Regions from separate parts of the Homo sapiens genome. Here region 1 is linked to region 2. Evidence: fine-mapped expression QTL. A gene starts in region 2. The other region holds a variant in brackets. All regions are shown on one strand. Distances are between the middles of the regions.

Region 1 (9,145 bases), 45 kb after region 2:
AGGAAGATTTGGGGTGAGTTGCATTGGGAACAGAGACTAGAGAGGGACTGATGTGTAAAAGAATGCCTGGACATCAGCCACCTCAGACCATTTGCCTATTTTATGACAAGGATTATTTAGATCTTGTAGGATGGAAAAATTGAAAGTGCCATTTTCTGGCTATTTGGAACTACTGTCGAGTTTGTATTGGGGTCAAGCGGCATTGCAGAAGAAAATAAGATGCTTAGATTTTAGGTCAGGTGAGAGTTGAAGAGGTATTAAGTTCTTAAGAACACAGGCTAAGGGAGAAGAAGGAGGAATGGAAGGTGGAAGCTTGTCCATAGTGAAGGAGGCAAGCCCAGAGAAAAGAGAGTAGAGACACAGAGAAGGGATGGGGGGTTATTGCCCTCCAGAAAAGAAGAGAAGGGGTTGGGGCATGGAAATAAGGGGTTGGGGTGCAGAGATAAGAGGTTGGGACACAGAAATAAGGGATTAGGTTGCAGAGATAAGAGGTTGGGGCACAGAAATAAGGGATCGGGGCACAGAGATAAGAGGTTGGGGTTCCTGCCTCTCCCCCAGAAAAGCGGTACTTGCCGCTAAGGGTGAAGGAGAAGGGGTTGAGAGGTTCTTGCCCCTCCTCCAGAAAAGCAGGACTTGCCACAAAGGGTGAAGGACAAAGGCAAGCATCCTTGCATGGTCTGACACCTCTGAAACCTGGGTGAATAATCAGAGAGGTGTCCCACAATGATTAAACACCAAGGGAAGGCTGCCTTCCCTAGTCCGTGACCAGCACCGGAGCTTTGGGTCCAGGGATAAAACGTGTCTCCTTTGTCTCTACCAGAAAATGAAAGGGATTGAAATTAAGAGAAGGGAGAGATTGAAGTGTGGCACCAAGATTGAAAGGAGAAAGAGGTTGAGGGATAGTGAGAGAGGTTGGAGAAGAGAGTAAAAAGAGGCTGCTTACTGGATTTAAAATTGGCAAGATGTTCCTTGGGCTGGTTGGTCTGAGGACCAGAGGTCGTAGGTGGATATTTCTCAAGGAGCAAAGAGCAGGAGGACAGGGGATTGATCTCCCAAGGGAGGTCCCCCGATCTGAGTCACGGCACCAAATTTCACTCTCTTCAGTGTGAAGAGACCCCTAAACAGGCTTTGTGTGAGCAATAAAGCTGTTTGTTTCACCTGGGTGCAGGTGGGCTGAGTCCAAAAAGAGAGTCAGTGAAGGGAGATAGGGGTGGGGCCGTTCTATAGGATTTGGGTAGGTAAAGGAAAGGGGGGTTGTTCTCTGGCAGGCAGGAGTGGGGGTCACAAGGTGCTCAGTAGGGGAGCTTTTGAGCCAGGGTAAGCCAGGAGAAGGACTTTCACAAGATAATGCCATCAATTAAGGAAGGAAACAGGCCATTTTCATTTGTTTTATGGTGGAATGTCATCAGTTAAGGCAGGAACTGGCCATCTGGATGTGTACGTGCAGGTCACAGGGGATATGATGGCTTAGCTTGGGCTCAGAGGCCTGACACATTCCAGATGTATTTCTCACAAAGATCTTGATCTTTTACATTCTTTATTAATAGTTGTCTCTTTATAGGTTTGAGATTTATTTAAAAACAGCCTATGTATATTTTTACTCATGTCCATGTGTACAGACCACCAAACAGGCTTTGTGTGAGCAATAAACCTTTTTAATCTCCTGGGTGCAGGCAGGCTGAGTCTGAAAAGAGAGTCAGTGAAGGGAGATAGGGGTGGGGCCATTTTTTAAGATTTGGGTAGGTAGTGGAACATTACAGTCAAAAGGGGTTGTTCTCTGGCTGGCAGGTGTGGGGGTCACAAGGTGCTCAGAAGGGGACTTTTTGAGCCAGGAAGAGCCAGGAGAAGGAATTTCACAAGTTAATGTCATCAGTTAAGGCAGGTACCGGCCATTTTCACTTCTTTTGTGATTCTTCACTTGCTTTGGGGCATCTGGACATATATGTGCAGGTCACAGGGGATACGATGGCTTAGCTTGGGCTCAGAGGCCTGCATTCCTGACTTCTTATATTAATAAGAAAAATAACATAAAATAGTATTGAAGTGTTAGGGCAGCGAAAAAAATTTTTTTGGGGGGTGGTATGGAGAGATAATGGACGATGTGTCTCAGGGCTGCTTCAAGCGGGATTAGGAGCAGCCTGGGAACCTACAGTGGGAGTGGTCAAGTTGAAGGAGGATTTTTTTGTAAGGTGTGATATTGTGGGGTTGTTTGAAGGAGGATTTGTCATATAGAATGATTTGTGATGGCCTGGATATGGTTTTGGATGAATTGAGAAACTAAACAGAAGATACAAGGTCCGAATAATAGAAGGAGAAAAATAGGTATTAAAGGACTGAGAATTGGGAGGACCCAAGACATCCAATTAGAGAGTTCCCAAGGGGGTTCAGCGTAATTACTTGCTTGGTTGGTGAGTTTTTGGGCTCTATCCTTGAGTTTTTTTATGTTGTCATACACCTGGCCAGATTTATGTAGGTAAAAACAACACTCTCCATTAAAAAATACACAGCGTCCTTCTTTTTCAGCAGTGAGTAAGTCAAGGCCTCGGCAGTTTTGGAGGACAACTGCAGCTAAAGAGTCAACTTGGGCCTGGAGGACTGAGAAAAGTTTGTGATATGTCTGTGCTGCTAACAGAGAAGTCATTAGAGAGGCTACGGAAGGTCATGACAGAGGTTGAAATGCCTGCTATTCCAGTACAGAGAGCAATAGTGGAGGCAGAAAGTCCAAACCGACAAGCAAGGGAATTAGTGGAATAACCATTTTTTGTCATGTCGGTGTCCATGAGGGGAACAGGGAGCTCTTCAGTCCCATTTTCAAATTGAATTTGGGGATTATGGAAAACTAGTGTGCATGTGCCTGTCCAATTAGCAGGTAGACACATGTAGGTAGAGGATCCACAAAGGAAGAAGAGACCTGTGCAAGGCAAAACTGGAAATGCAAAGTAAAAAGATGAGAAGGAGTGCTGAAAGGGGCGTCTTGTACCCAGACTCTTAGGGATGCAGCTAGGGCGGCAGCCATCAGAGGTTGTAACGGGGACTGATGGGGTAACTGCATAGAGGGTGAGGTTCGATTTTCATGGTGTGTGAGAAAACGCTGAGTGTCTATGAGCAATCTTTCACTGTTATTTATGGGGCTGGATATAAGTAAACAAGAAGCGGGCCTGGGAGGAGAGTCTGATGAGCAAGGGGAAGGTAGCCAAGGATGGAGTGAAATACAGGGTAAGTGTCTTCCTAAGGAATAATTACTGCTATTGTTTTTAAGTTTGCCAGTATTGATAGAGGGCTTTTCTGTACAGAGCTGGAAGGCTCCAATTGTTTCAGTGATGTGTGTAGTTGGGCTTTGGAGATGAAGAGGGAAGGAACATCAAGAAGGTGAAAGGTTACCCAGGGGAATTCCAGTGGGCCTTTGCTGAGAGATACATAAAGGAGCGGCCACAGGAATAGTAGTTTGTGTTGTGAGAGGTCCAAATATGGGGGGAGTAGAGTTGATATAAGGAGAAAGGTTTTTTAAGTAAGTGCAGAGGAGGGCTGCAGCTTGCTGATGTGAAATGTCTGGGGATGTCTTGCTGGACCTGTCTAGAAAGTAAATGAGTTCTTCAGGAGGGTAAAGGTGAGGGCTGTTAAAGGAAGTTCAGAGGTATAAGGAGACAGGAGATATTGCCCAGTCTGTATGTAAGGCAGGGACAGCTGTGTAGATGCTGGAAGAAAGGGAAAGGCAAAGCCAGCAATTGTTCACTAAGGAGGGATTAGAAACGGCTAGGAGAGAGTGAGTAAGGTTGATAGTGTGGTAGAGATAGCTGGGGAGAGGTAGAGGGTGGCGTGAGAATGAGAATAAGAGTGAGTATAAAAGTAAAGAATAGAACTTTATCAAGGTGAAAGTATTGGAGGGTGCCCTGCCAGCAAAGATCATCTATCTACTCTAAGAGGGAGTTAAGAGTGGTTGTTGGGGACAGCACCAGGAGATATCAGCTGTGATGGCTTGGAGAAACAGCATAAACTGGCAGTGTAAACAAGAGTAGGCATTTATGAATAGTTGAGAATGGTGAATAGGAGTATGACTAGACAGAGACAGTAGGGATGACTAGATTTTGGGGCTCAGTCCAAGTAGTGGGGGTGACTGGATAAAGCCCTTTGCAAAAAGTAGGGTAAGGACAAACAGACCTAATAGAATGAAGGGATGTATTAGGCTCATAAGTGTTATTACTCTTCTTCAGAAATGCGAGTGAGTTTAAGGGAAGTAGGAGAGAGTACTTGTGATTTCCAGGAGGAAGAAGAGAAATTAGGCTGGCTGTCCAATGGACACAGCTTTATTCTGGAATGGCGAACCCAGTGGGGAGGATCCTGCAGGTGGAAGGCAGTTGGGGTACTATAGATGACTAAGTAGGGTCCGTTCCATCAAGGTTGTAGAGTTTGAGGGGTCAGATTCTTAACAAGAACTGATCATCCAGCTAGAGTGTCTTCATATGGCTGAGAATCTGGAGTAGGTAAGAGAAGATTAGCAGCCTGGTGAATTTCCTGTCTAGCCTGCTGGAGGACTGGAAGATAGTCTCCTAGAGGGCTGGTGTCTGGGACCTGGTTGGGACCGAGCAAGAAAGTGCATCCATATAAAAGTTCAAATGGACTGCACCCTGTAGCACCTTGAGGACAAGCTCTAATTCTGAGAAGGGCAAGAGGTAAAAGTACTGTCCAGCCCTTTTTAAGTTGGAGGCTGAGCATGGTGAGGTGTGTCTTTAAAAGACCATTAGTCCACTCTACCTTTCCTGAAGATTGAGGACAGTAAGGGATATGAAGATTCCACTGAATACCAAGAGTCTGAGAAACTGCTTGGGTGATTTGACTAGTAAAGGCCCGTCCATTATCAGACTGTATAGAGGTGGGAAGGCCAAACCAAGGAATTATG[C/T]CTGACAGAAGGGAAGAAATGACCATGGTGACCCTGTGGGAAAGACCTCTACCCATCCAGTGAAGGTGTCTACCAAGACCAAGAGGTATTTTAGTTTCCTGACTTGGGGCATGTGAGTAAAGTCAATTTGCCAGTCCTGGGCAGGGGCAAATCTCTGAGCTTGATGTGTACGGATGGGAGGGGGCCTGAACAATCCCTGAGGGGTAGTAGAATAGCAGATGGAACACTGAGAAGTGATTTCCTTGAGTATAGATTTCCATGATGGAAAGGAAGTGAGAGGTTCTAAGAGACAGGCTAGCAGCTTGTAACCTACATGGAAAAGGTTATGAAATGATGAAAGAATAGAATGGGCCTGTGAGGCTGGAAGGAGATATTTTCCTTGATCCAAGAACCATTTGCCTTTTGTGGGAAGAGAATGATAGGTGGAAGTTTCAGTGGGGGAGTAGGTGGGAGTGATTGATGAGAAGGAGAAAAACTGGCCATAAGGGATAGAAGTTGAAACGCTAGCTGCTTCTTTAGCTAGCTACCTTACCAGCATAAGCATTGCCTAGAGCAATGGGATCTGATGCCTTTTGATGGCCCTTGCAGTGAATGACTCCAGCTTCCTTTGGGAGTAAAACGGCTTTGAGATGAGTTTTTATTAAAGAGGCATTAATGATGGAGGACCATTGTGTAGTGAGGAAACCTCTTTCTGCCCATATAACAGCATGGTGGTGCAGGATATGGAAGGCGTGTTTAGAGTCAGTATAAATATTGATGTGTAGTCCCTTTGCAAGAGTAAGGGGCTGAGTTAAGGCAATGAGTTTGGCTTGCTGAGAGGTAGTGGAGGGGGGCAGAGCGGTAGCCTCAATGATAGATGTGGAAGACACTATAGCATAGCCTGCCTTTGCTGGTGAGTGGCAATTAGGCCTGGTGGAGCTGCCATCAATAAACCAAATGTGATCAGGGTGAGGAACAGGAAAGAAGGAAATATGGGGAAATGGGGTGAATGTCAGGTGGATCAGACAGATACAGTCATGGGGGTCAGGTGTGGCATCCAGAATAATGTGGAAGGCCAGATTGAAGTCCAGGCCAGGAACAATGCTAATTGTGGGAGATTCAACAAGGAGCGAATATAGCTGAAGGAGCCACAGAGCAGAAAGTATATGCATCAGGTGTGAGGAAGAAAATAGATTTTGGAAGTTATGAGAGCTGTGGAGAGTGAGTTGAGCACAGTTTGTGATTTTGAGGGCCTCTAAAAGTATTAGGGTGGCAGCAGCTGCTGCACGGAGACATGATGGCCAGTCTAAAACAGTAAGGTCAAGTTGTTTGGACAAAAAGGCTATAGGGCATGGTCCTGGTCCTTGTGTAAGAATTCCAACTCCACAGTCCTGCACTTTGGCTGTGTGTAGTGAAAAGGGTTGGGATGAGTCAGGGAGAGCTAGTGTGGCAGCAGTCTCTAAAGCTGTGTTCAAGGAATGGAAAAGAGGAGTGGGGAAAGGATTTAGGATCTATGGGGTCAGCTAGGTTTCCTTTTGTGAGTTTATATAATGGTTTTGTTAGGATGGCAAAACCAGCTATCCAAAGGCGAAAGTATCCAACCATGCCTAGTAAGGAAAGGAGTTGTTGTTTTGTAGAAGGTGCTGGGGTTTGAGAGATCAGTAGGACATGATTGGCAGGGAGAGCAGTGTGTTTTTATGAAGAATTATGCCAAGGTAAGTAATGGATGGAGAAGAAATTTGAGCTTCAGAGGGGGATAACCGATATGCTTTGGAGAATAAATATTGAAGGAGCAGGAGGGCGTCTTGTTGGGAAGATTGAAAGGAGGGGCTACAAAGTAGAAGGTCATCAATATATTGAATAAGGTGAGAAGCAGAGGGGTGGAAAGAAAGTAAATCATGAGAAAGAGCTTGGCTGAGGTAATGAGAGCTGTCCCTGAAGCCTTGCGGCAGCACAGCCCAGGTAAGCTGCTGGGACTGGTGGGTGTCAGGATCAGTCCAGGTAAAAGCAAAGAGCGGCTGGGATGAGGGGTGCAGGGGAATAGTGAAAAAAGCATCTTTAAGATCAAGAATGGAATAGTGAGTTGTGGAGGAAGGCATTGAGGACAAAAGAGTATACGGGTTGGGCACTACAGGGTGGACAGGCAAAACAATTTGGTTGATAAGGCGCAGATCCTGAACTAACCTATAAGACTTGTCCGGTTTTTGGACAGGTAAAATGGAGTTGAAAGGAGAGTTTATAGGTTTTAGAAGCCCATGCTGTAGCAGGCAAGTGATAACAGGCTTTAATCCTTTTAAAGTGTGCTGTGGATGGGATATTGGTGTTGAGTGGGGTAACGGTGATTAGGTTTTAATGGGATAGTAATGGGCATGTGATCAGTTGCCAGGGAGGGAGTAGAGCTGTCCCATACTTGTGGGTTAAGGTGGGGGGATATGAGAGGAAGACGCAAAGGAGACTTTGGGTTGGGAAGAAGGGTGACAATGAGATGTGGCTGTAGTCCAGGAATAGTCAGTGAATCAGATAATTTGGTTAAAATATCTTGGCCTAATAAGGGAGCTGGGCAGGTGGGGATAACTAAAAAAGATTGCATAAAAGAATGTTGTCCAAGATGGCACTAGAGTGGGGGAGTTTTAAGGGATTTTGAAGCTTGGCCATCGATACCCACAACAGTTATGGGGGCAAGTGAAACAGGCCTTTGCAAAGAAGGTAATGTGGAGTGGGTAGCCCCCATAGCAATTAAACAGGGGATGGACTTACCCTCCACTGTGAGAGTTACCCAAAGCCTGGCATCCGTGATGGTCCAGGGGGCTTCCAAGATGATTGGACAGCGTCAGTCTTCAGCCACTAAGCCAAGCAGATCTGGGAAGGAGTCAGTCAGAAAGCCTTGGGCTAGAGTTTTAGGGGCTCTAGGAGTGGCTGCTGGGTGAGCTAGGCAGTCTGATTTCGAGTGGGTCCCTGCACAGATGGGACACAGCTTGGGAGGAATCCTGGGCTGCAGGCATTCCTTGACCCAGTGGCCAGATTTCTGACACTTGAAGCAAGATCCTGATGGAGGAAGTCCTGTAGGAATGCTTGACTGCTGCAGCTTAGGCATGTGCAGCTTAGGCATTTTGAAGTTCTTGTGTGATGGAGGTGTGGCTGGGTTTTTTCTCACAGCAGAGGCAAATAATTGTAACTCAGAAATGCGTTGCTGTCTGGCTGCCTCCTCTCTATTATTGTACACCTTGAAGGTGAGGTTGATTAATTCCTGTTGTGGGGTTTGAGGGCTGGATTCTAATTTTTGAAGCTTTTTTCTAATGTCAGGAGATGACTGGGTGATAAAATTCATATTTAGAATGAGACAGCCTTCTGACACTTCAGGGTCTAGGGCTGTAAAGCATCTCAGGGTTGCTGCCAAATGAGCCATGAACTGGGCTGGGTTTTCGTCTTTACCTTGGGTAGTTTCTTTAAGCTTGTCATAATTAACAGCTTTGTAAGCTGCCTTTTAAAGCCTTTCAACTAGGCAGGAAATCATGTAATCTCGCCTAGCTATACCTGGGGAATCTGCCTAATAGTTCCATTGGGGATCCTCTTGGGGAACTGCTCTAATGCCTTCCTGGAGGTCTGGCTCATGGAGCTGGCAGTTGTCAGTGTGAGATTGGGCCAGAGAAAAACCTCTTTCCCATTCATCTGGGGAGAGGGTAGAAGTTAGGATGACATTTAAGTCACTCCAGGTTAAATTGTAGGACAGAGTTAGATGTTGGAATTCCTGTATATATTTAGTGGGGCCTGATGAGAAAGAGCCTAAACTCCAACTGATCTGAGAGAGGTCTGATAGAGAAAAAGGCACATGTATCCTGACTATGCCTTCAGTTCCAGCCATCTCTCTAAAAGGAAATTTTTGGGCAGGTGGGGAACAGCTAGTCACAGAACCAAACTGTAAGCTGGACTGGGTGTGAGGAGGGGAGGTGATAGAAGGAGTATAGGGTGGAGGAGAGGAGACTGAGGAAGAATTGGGACTTGGCTCGGCCTGGCGATGAGCAGCCTGGGGAGGAGGGGAGAGGTCAGATGGGTCTGTAGAAAACGAAGATTGGAAAGACTCAGCTACACTTGGGGTTGGGACTGAGGCGACAGGTGGGAGGGAAAGAAGGAGGATTTGGGAGGAATCACATTGGGAACACGGACTAGGGAGGGAACAAAGTGTGAAAAATGCCTAGATGTAAGGCACCTCAGACCATTTGCCCATTTTTCAACAAAAATTAGCTAGGTCTTCTAAGATAGAGAAATTGA
Region 2 (9,145 bases):
TACTCCCAAACCATGGTATTTGCCATTCATCATTCTGTACACTTGCTTCTTATTAGTATAAAGCCAATGGAATGAATTCTAACACTAGACTTTCCAGCACCAGTGGAGCAAATATTTTGGTTTGGTGGAGAAGGCGGTGATGGAAGGACTTTCAGAAGACAGCTGCCTATTCTAACTACATTTAAGTGTATTCTGAGTTAGGCATTATGACTTCTATTCATATCGCCTTTCCTCCTCATGGAATGAAAATTACATGCAGGAAAGATTGTAGGAGAAAAGTATATTTGTCTCTGTGTGTGTGTGCGTGTGTGTTTGTCTGTTGGGTGGTGTGATGATGTACAAGAAGTGTCCTTGTTTTAGAAAAATATAATAATAGAATGTTTAAGTATGATAGAAATTATGTTTTTAGCTTGCTATAAAATGATTCAGAAAATACTAATTATATGTATATATAAAATGTATATATATGCACACACAGGTAACACATATACATATCTATATTTACATCTGTTTGCTTATTGGGAGGATAGATACATAGATGAAACACACACATGCGGTAGATGCTAACAATTGGGGAAAGAGGAGGAGGTGGAGATAGCAGTTCTTTGAACTATATCTGCAACTTTTATGTAAATTTGAAAGTATTTCAAGGTAAATTTTTTTAAAATATAAAAAGTTGCTTTTGAACAAAAAGATTATTTGAGATGTTCAAGCAGACACTGGGTAACTGTCTCACGGGGATATTGCAAAGACTTCTTGCACTGGGTAGGAGGTTTGACTGGGTAATCCATCATTTCAAACTCAGAGCACATGATTTATGAATCATAGGTTGGTGATAGTACAATGGAGTGAAATCTGAGCCACATGCCCAGAAATTTAATGGAATGTTAAGATGTTATAAAAGTAGAATGCGGGTACCAAATAATTTGCAAAGGCTCTTTTCCCCACTGATCCGTCCATCCCTCATGTAAGTATTGAAGGCATGTATAAGAGATTATTTTAGGTTCCGGGTATTCACATATAAATAGAATGCACCTTTTCTACCCTCAGCGTTCTGAAGTGAAGCTATATAAAATGTAGTGGTTTATTAAGCCAATACTAAATGAGCCCACTGGCATAAGTTGGAAATTCATAATCTGGCATATTTTTTCCAGTCTAATTTGGGAATTCTTTTGCTAGATATACTTTACTGTTTACCCTTGAAGATAACTTTGTTTGATGTGATAGCCTGAGATAGTCTGGTTCATACAGACAGACCTTCTCTCTATAGCCTACTACATGTGCATGGTATTATGCTGTAACTCTAATTCCATCCTTAATTAACATCAGGGCTTCTTCTGTAAAAGGAATTAAGAAGAGCTGTCTCATAAATATATTCAATGAGAAGAGAACTTTTAAAGGTATGAGACTTTCAAGGTAACTGTTTCTAATAATTTGGAGAAAAAACACAAAAAGAAGAAAAAAGACAATGTCTTTTTTTCTGTGTCTTACTCTTCTTTTGTAACTCACAGCATCTAATTTTCTAGGCAGGTAGCAGGATCTCACCTGTCAACTCTTAACAGAACTGAAGGCATTATAAACTGTTTCTGAAATTAACATTCAGATTCAATTACTTATGATCCATTTTTCTGTGGTAAAAGGAATTGGTCACATTAAAATAGGATATGTCATAATTTTCAATAGGCTACCTTGTTTGTATTACTTATATTTACACTAAATATAATTTAACATTTTCTTTTGTCAGAACATTTTCCTATTATCACTCAAAATTTAGGAACAATCTTACCAAAAAAAATTGCCTGAAATGAGTCCATGCTTAAATGGAAGAATTAACTTTTAAGTTCTTTACTGATGAGGGCATTTGCTTATACATTTTTAAAGTTTGGAATTAAGTGCACTTTTACTTGAAAAAACTATAAAAGGATAAGAAAATTGATGAGATGATAACTGTAACCCTTTGCTGTGGTTTTTATATATATTCCTAGGCTTATACTTTACAGTCGGACAGTAATGGCGATCAACCTTCTACCAAGACACGTTGGCTCTCATTAATGAATAATTCTCCCCCCACCCCGATTTTCTAGGAGCAAAATAGAATTGTAGAAAAAAGCGGTTTGGGAAAATATTTTAAAAATTTGTGGTAATATTTTATGGACAATTGTATTGTCGTCATTGTCTATTAAAAGAGGTTAAACCAGGGAGAATAAATTTATGGCTATTGCTTTTTACTCCTCAAGAGACAGGAAAATGAACATTCTGCCTGAACTGCTCTAATATAAGGTCCTTACAGAACAATTTCATTAAATGGTCTTAGTAGGACAGAGTGACGGTCTCTGCCATTGGTAGGAAAAGTAATGGACTATTTCTGGATAAATCACATTGTGATCTGAGCAGTGTACAGACATAATGATGTGGTAGCCAAGGGTACTGGTGATATATGTTTGCTGGTGTCAGTAAATGGGTAGAAAAGCATTGATTGAATGATAGTCTTGACATTCAGACTTAATATTTATGTATTGCAGTGTGAAGCAAGTAGAATGATAGTATTCTTGTATTGCACAACTCTTTTTGGAAAATTATCTCTGTGTTAAGTTAAAGCTACACTAGAGTGTGCTTATGATAGAGTAGGTAATATTAGAATAAAACTCAAGATCTAGAAAACATTTGGAGATGCCTATATGGGAAATCAAAAAATTTTAGTTAATTAGTAGATTATGGCCTATAATGATCTATTCTCAGGCCTATTTTTAAGTTATAGCCATGTTAGGACATGGAAAGATGTTAACAGGGTCCTCTGACAAGTTTTTAAAAATGAATTCCATTTAAAGCTATCTATATTCACTTTATTTCTTTTACATGAGTTTATCAGAAATAGTATTAAATTTGGGGATCAACAGATATTTAATTAAAAGTGAACTAAATTTTTTTTCTCTTCTCAAAGGCTATAGATAAATAATACAATGTGCTTAATATCTGATTGCCATTGAGGTGATTGATTTGAACTACAAAAATGAGATGAAACCCATTAAATTATGCAATTTTTTATTAATGACCTTTTTGCAAAGAAAATCATGTAGAGTTTCAAAAGCACATAAAGGTAACAGCAATTTTTATCATCCAATTACCTATGGCTAATAGTATTGTCCTGATATATTTTGGCAAATCCATTATCTTTTTTGCTGGCCTTTCTGCTCAGAATAAAGAACATATTTCTTCAATATCCACTCTTTTTCTTAAGGATTCAAATGGACCTTATATCCACAGGAAACTCCTCTGACTATTGTATAATTTGATGAATGTTGAGAACTCTGTCAATGCAGCAGTGATTTGTCTCTGTATTCTGGACTTGATTTAGCTTTATTCTTTTTCTCATAGGCATTCTGAAATATTTATGACAAAGTGCATTGGTAATCTGATGTAGGAGTCCTGTGAGAAACAAAAAGAACTAATTACTAGCAAATTTACAACCAGTAGCGCATCCTTTCAAATTCTGTGCAACTTTTAAAAGAAGCAAAATAATGGATAAAATAATAATATAAATTTAATACTTTTAAAAAATTCTATAATTGTTTTTTTCTCAATTCTTGCACATTTCATCAGTTGATCATTAACCCGATTGTGTTAGTTCTTAATACAAATGTAGTGAACACCTGCTTTTGTTCTAGAGGAATTAATCAAGCAATGGTCAAGATAAATGGAGTTGGCCTTGATCGCTCAGGTGTTTATGTACAAGAGTTTTCCAGCAAGCGTATTTTAGTTGTAACATTCCAGTGAATAATCAGAAGTCAGTTTGGGGTAAGTACCTTAGAAATAAATAGCTTTTGAATAAGTATGTATGCAATAACATTGCCTATGAATGTTTAGTAGAGTATGGAATGGCATTTCAATTTACTTTGGTGTAAAAATCATTTGAATTTATTTAATTAACATATCGCTTTTATTCTCCTTAAATGATTTCACCACAAATCAGAAGATCCAGTTCTTATAGGACTATTCATCAGGTTGTTTAGTTCAGCATTACTTTGTGCTTTCTGATAAGATATGATCCAAAACCTGATGAGGTAAGTGAGTTTTTAAAACCAATATTTGTCTGAGGTTATAATTTATTAAGTGCTTAGAAATTTTCTAGAAAAAATGGATGTGGATGCTCAAATAATATAAATTTAATTATTAAGATTATTAATAATAATGAGAAGGAAACTCTAATACTGAGATTCTACCACAAAGAAAAAAATTACATTTTTAATAATACTGTTCATTATTCCAATATAAACCAAATACATAAAGCTATATCTAATGTATTTCCAGTTGATAACTTAAAGGTACTAATAACATTTTGACTACGTATCTACAAACACATATTTTGGTCAGAAGTCTTCTGAGAAATTGAATATATTAGAAGATAATGATACACAGACATTTATTTTGCATGTAAAACTTCTCTTACTCACTGGTTTTTAACTATTGTTGCACTCTCATTTATAAGCTCATATGCTAAATTAATCCCTAATGAAACATTTGCTTGATATTAATAGCATATAGGTCTATATCTAAAGTTTACCAACACATTTTCTAACAATTGCTTTGGATTGTTTTTTGAGGCTTTTGTCTTTTGCAAATATATATCTAAACAAATACAGTTTAACAAAATACATTGAAGGATAAATAATGACTCCATAGTTTAATTTGGAACAATATTTGACTATTAGTAATCTTTATATATAAATATAGTTGTTCTTAGGGACTCCTACCATTTATGGTACCCTTAATGATCTGCAAAACACTCTAGAAATGTAAGTCTCTACTTAAGGCTGACAACAGACTATTCTAAAGGCTTTCATCTTTACCCCTAATTAAGGGTTACTTCCTAGTAACTTACTGATGGATAAGTTTTTAAGGATTACTAACATGTATTATTTATAAGGTAAAATTATTGTTACTAAAATTTATGAGGCCTTGGAGTCAACATTCTACCAAATATGTGGTAATATTGCAAAACTAATTCTGCTTGAGATATAATCAAATGGTTGAATTTCCTGCAATTTTAGTGGAGAGCACTTTAATAGGGTATTATTAGTCTTGTGAATTGTTTATGGTTTTTAATTGCTGCTACTCTTACATTTGTTAGTATTTCTGTCAATTCTTTGATATTATATTTCATTTTATTTATATTTTTTCTTTTATAATTTCAAGTTTTATTACAGATTAATGTACATGTGCAGGTTTGCTACATGGGTATATGGCCTGACACTAAGGTTTGGGGTATAAATGATCTCATCACCCAGGTAGTGAGCATAGTACTTTATTGTATCATTTATATTTGATTGCCATTTTGTTTCAAACTTTGCAGGTTTTCTGCATTGTATTTGTCTTCTTTTGGAAAAGCAGGAAGAGGGCTTTGGGTTATTTTGTCCTAAGAAATAAAGCGTGAGGAAAATTGTAAAAAGTTAGCCAGATTACTCAGTTGCTTTAGAATACATTAATTTTCTAATATTATAGGTCTAAAACCACACTGGAGTAAGTCTGTTTTTATTCCATTTCTTCCTCTTGATCTATAAATTACTGTAGAGTAGACAGCACAGAAGGTTTACCTGATGTCAGAGTTACAGTTATCCCACTTAACCATGAGAAAAGATAGAAAAAAACTATTGTATAACTATTTGGAGATACCATTGCCATTGATAACATTCCAACATTGTAGTGTCTTTTTTGATTTTTGCTACAAAACTACAAGTATATTTTCTACTGGTTCTTGAAGATATGTAAGAAATACCATTAACACATGAACTATTTTTCTGAATAGATGATACTTAGAAATCTAATTGGATAGAGTTCACTTGTGGTAGTAAGTTCTATTAAGATAGAAAGCTACAACAGGTAGAAAGTTTTCTGTTGAGCTCTCTGTGGAAAACTCTATTTTGAAAATGAATATATTTTGATTTAAACAATACAGAGAAGTCAAAATGGACACAATCTTCTTGTGGAGTCTTCTATTGCTGTTTTTTGGAAGTCAAGCCTCAAGATGCTCAGCTCAAAAAAATACCGAATTTGCAGTGGATCTTTATCAAGAGGTTTCCTTATCTCATAAGGACAACATTATATTTTCACCCCTTGGAATAACTTTGGTTCTTGAGATGGTACAACTGGGAGCCAAAGGAAAAGCACAGCAGCAGATAAGACAAACTTTAAAACAACAGGAAACCTCAGCTGGTGAGACTCTTACATCTCCTTACTTATACTGGATAAGATATGGACGCATTCATTTTTTAATATTAGAAGTTCAGGATAAAGAAATTTTAATAAGTGAAAATGTAATGAAAAGTACAAAATTGTAATAAAATGGAGAATTGTAAATGTAATTTTCATTCATTTATAATTAATTCCTTTAAAAGGTTACAAAAATTATTAAGAAATTGACATCTATATAAATGTAAAATTAAGTAAATATTTGTACATTTTCTTTTAGTTTGTTTTAGCCAGTTTTAATTACTTGAGATTATACTGGGCGTGCATGTGTGTGTGTGTATGTACATACTCATAAAATATACATCTATACACATACATATTCTTCCACTATCACTATGTTGTGATCATTTTCCCATGTCATGGAACTGATTCAAAATATGATTTTTAATTACTGTATCTTATTGCCTCTTATAGAAGTACCATTACTTACTTAGCCTTTCTTCAGTAGGTTGTTTCCAACATTTCTCTTAAAAAAAATGCACCTCATCTGTAACGAGACCAAGAAAAAACATTAATTTGTTCATTTTAAAAGCTTATTTGTTACTAGTTTTAAAAGGAAAATGGAAAAAAAAGGATTTAAATAATCAGAGGCCTTTGTGCTTGTGAATGATGATTGTTTTGTTGGAGTCTCCTCATGGACTGTCTGGGATAGTGTCTATCCCTCTTACTGGGATACTGTGCTTTTGTGCTGGCATCCCATTTGAAAGAATTGTTGCTTGGCTGGTGTGGTGGCTCACACATGTAATCTCAGCACTTTGGGAGGCTGAGGCAGGTGGATCACTTGAGGTCAGGAGTTCGAGACCAGGCTGGAAAAATACAAAAATTTGCAAGGCATGGTGGCATGTGCCTATAGTCTCAGCTACTTGAGAGGCTAAGGCAGGAGAAGTGCTTGAACCCAAGAGGCAGAGGTTGCAGTGAGCTGAGATCGTGCCACTGCACTCCAGCCAGGGCAAAAGAACAGACTCCTTCTCCAAAAAAAAAAAAAAAAAAAAAAAAAAAAAGTTGTTGCTCATCTCCTCAGCTATCTCATGCTCTCAGTTTCTATAGTTGTTTTAATTTTCAGCTTTTGGATTACTCTGAGATACTGTGTTCTAAATACAGATTTTTGATTTGGGAATTTAGTTGCTACAACTATAATTTCAGTGTATTTTTCTTATCACAGAGTAGCAGTATTTAGAAATTTGCTTTCCTGAAAATACTATTTACAAGATTTTATTTGCTTCATTTTAAATAAAGACAATTTTATACAGAAAAGACGTTGGTAATAGTGAAGTGAAGTTAATTGTAAGAATTTTTCTTTGCAAATAGTGCACACTGAAGCCAATGTATTCCAGATTTAGTCTTGATTAATTTCAGCAAATCCCAATATACCACTCCCAGAAACGTTTAAACCACATGCTATAGCTTTGAAAAAGTAATACAATATTTGTGAAGATACATAAATTAGAGTCTCTGAAAACTTAAATTACTTTAAATGGATACATGATATAGAGAAACACAGAAGTTTTAACAGGTGTGAATTGTGAACATGATAAAGTAATAGTAATAACGCACTATCAAAAATATAGAAAGGATATCAGCCACTGTTTCATGTGCTTAATATATATTCTCTCATTTAATATTTATAATTACTTTGTTAAGTAAACAACCTTGTAATAAACCTGAGAAAACTGAGGCAAAGAAAGGTTAAATAATTTGCTCAGTGCTAATTCCTAAAATAATTCAGTGAGGATTAAGAATATAAGAGCAATATATTCTCACTAATATATTAATAAGAATATTAATTCTCATATATTATGTAAGGCTCTCAGTGTCCTCAGTTCTCCTTCTTTACTTCATTGTCAAAACATCTGCTCTGAATTTACCTCCTCCATTTTGCTGAACATCTGTTAATACTCCCTTTTGCTTTACCTCTGATAATGCTGATGACGAATCAAAGGCTAAATTCAATGTGCTTCTTTTTTCCACAGGGTTTTGAAAAGAGAACTGGGCATGAATTCCTGTCCCAGTTCTGCAACTAAATGACCTTGTGATTTGGCACAAGTCATGTCACTTGTGAAGCTTCTTAATCTCTCTGGGCCTCAGATTCCTCACTGTAAAAAGAAAAGTTGAGGTTAGGTAATTTATTTGGACCTTTTGGCTGAAATAATCTATAATTCTACGACTACGTTTGTTTTCATCTTTGGATCTCCCATATGCACACAAAATTGGCTTTTAGACTTTTACTAGCAGAAGAGAACATGCACTGAATTTTAGAACATTTTCTGGAGGTCTGGTACAATCAAATCAAGAGCCACATTCACCCATGACCTGTGGGTTATCCATGGCTCTATTTTAGAAAATGAAATAAACTTGTTGTCATTACTTATTAGGAGATATATAATTTTTGATCTGTGCTAAAAATGTCATTAATCTAGAAACGAAATAAAATTTATAGGGCAGATAATGTTATATTCTTCTCCAAACTTGTACTACTTAGTGACATTTTTTTCATTGACTTCTGAGTTCAACAGTTTATCAAAGGGCAGCTGTTTGTCACATAGACTTAGACCTTAAGTACATGACATAAATCTATTTGCTTTGACAAATGATTTGGAACTACTTTTTCTCCCTTTCTCTCTTTTTTTATTCCTTTAAAGATGTTCATGTATTTCAGATTTCTGAAAATTAGTTTCAGATTCTGTCACTTCATTTCTGACCTTAATTAATTCTTTTGGAAAAGCTCTCGTGTCTTTACTCAGAAAGCCTTTTCTGTAGCCTCCCAGCTATTGAGATATTTGTTTCAGGCTTCAGATAGCAATAAATGGTTACATCTGAAATCATTGTACAAATAAGTAAAATGGCTTAACTTTCTTCCCTTCCTTATGTAAGGAATTTCAGGGTTATAAAGAATTACTGA

Evidence for each region. PIP is the estimated chance that this variant, and not a neighbour inherited with it, causes the effect.
Region 1: its variant is fine-mapped to the expression of SERPINI2 in pancreas (GTEx, PIP above 0.99).

The regions. Positions count from the first base shown.
Region 1 is chr3:167,423,633-167,432,777 of GRCh38, reverse strand. No RefSeq gene overlaps it. Among named protein-coding and RNA genes, the nearest start is that of LINC01327, 35 kb to the right of the region's middle. The variant C/T (reference allele first, on the strand shown) is at 4,898.
Region 2 is chr3:167,468,653-167,477,797 of GRCh38, reverse strand. It overlaps SERPINI2 (serpin family I member 2), which reads left to right and starts at 3,756. Exons shown (of 9, transcript NM_006217.6): 1 at 3,756-3,795; 2 at 5,954-6,210. The coding sequence starts at 5,964. It overlaps LOC105374197 (a long non-coding RNA gene), which reads right to left and starts at 8,227. Exons shown (of 3, transcript XR_924683.3): 1 at 8,158-8,227; 2 at 6,677-6,733; 3 at 3,338-3,426.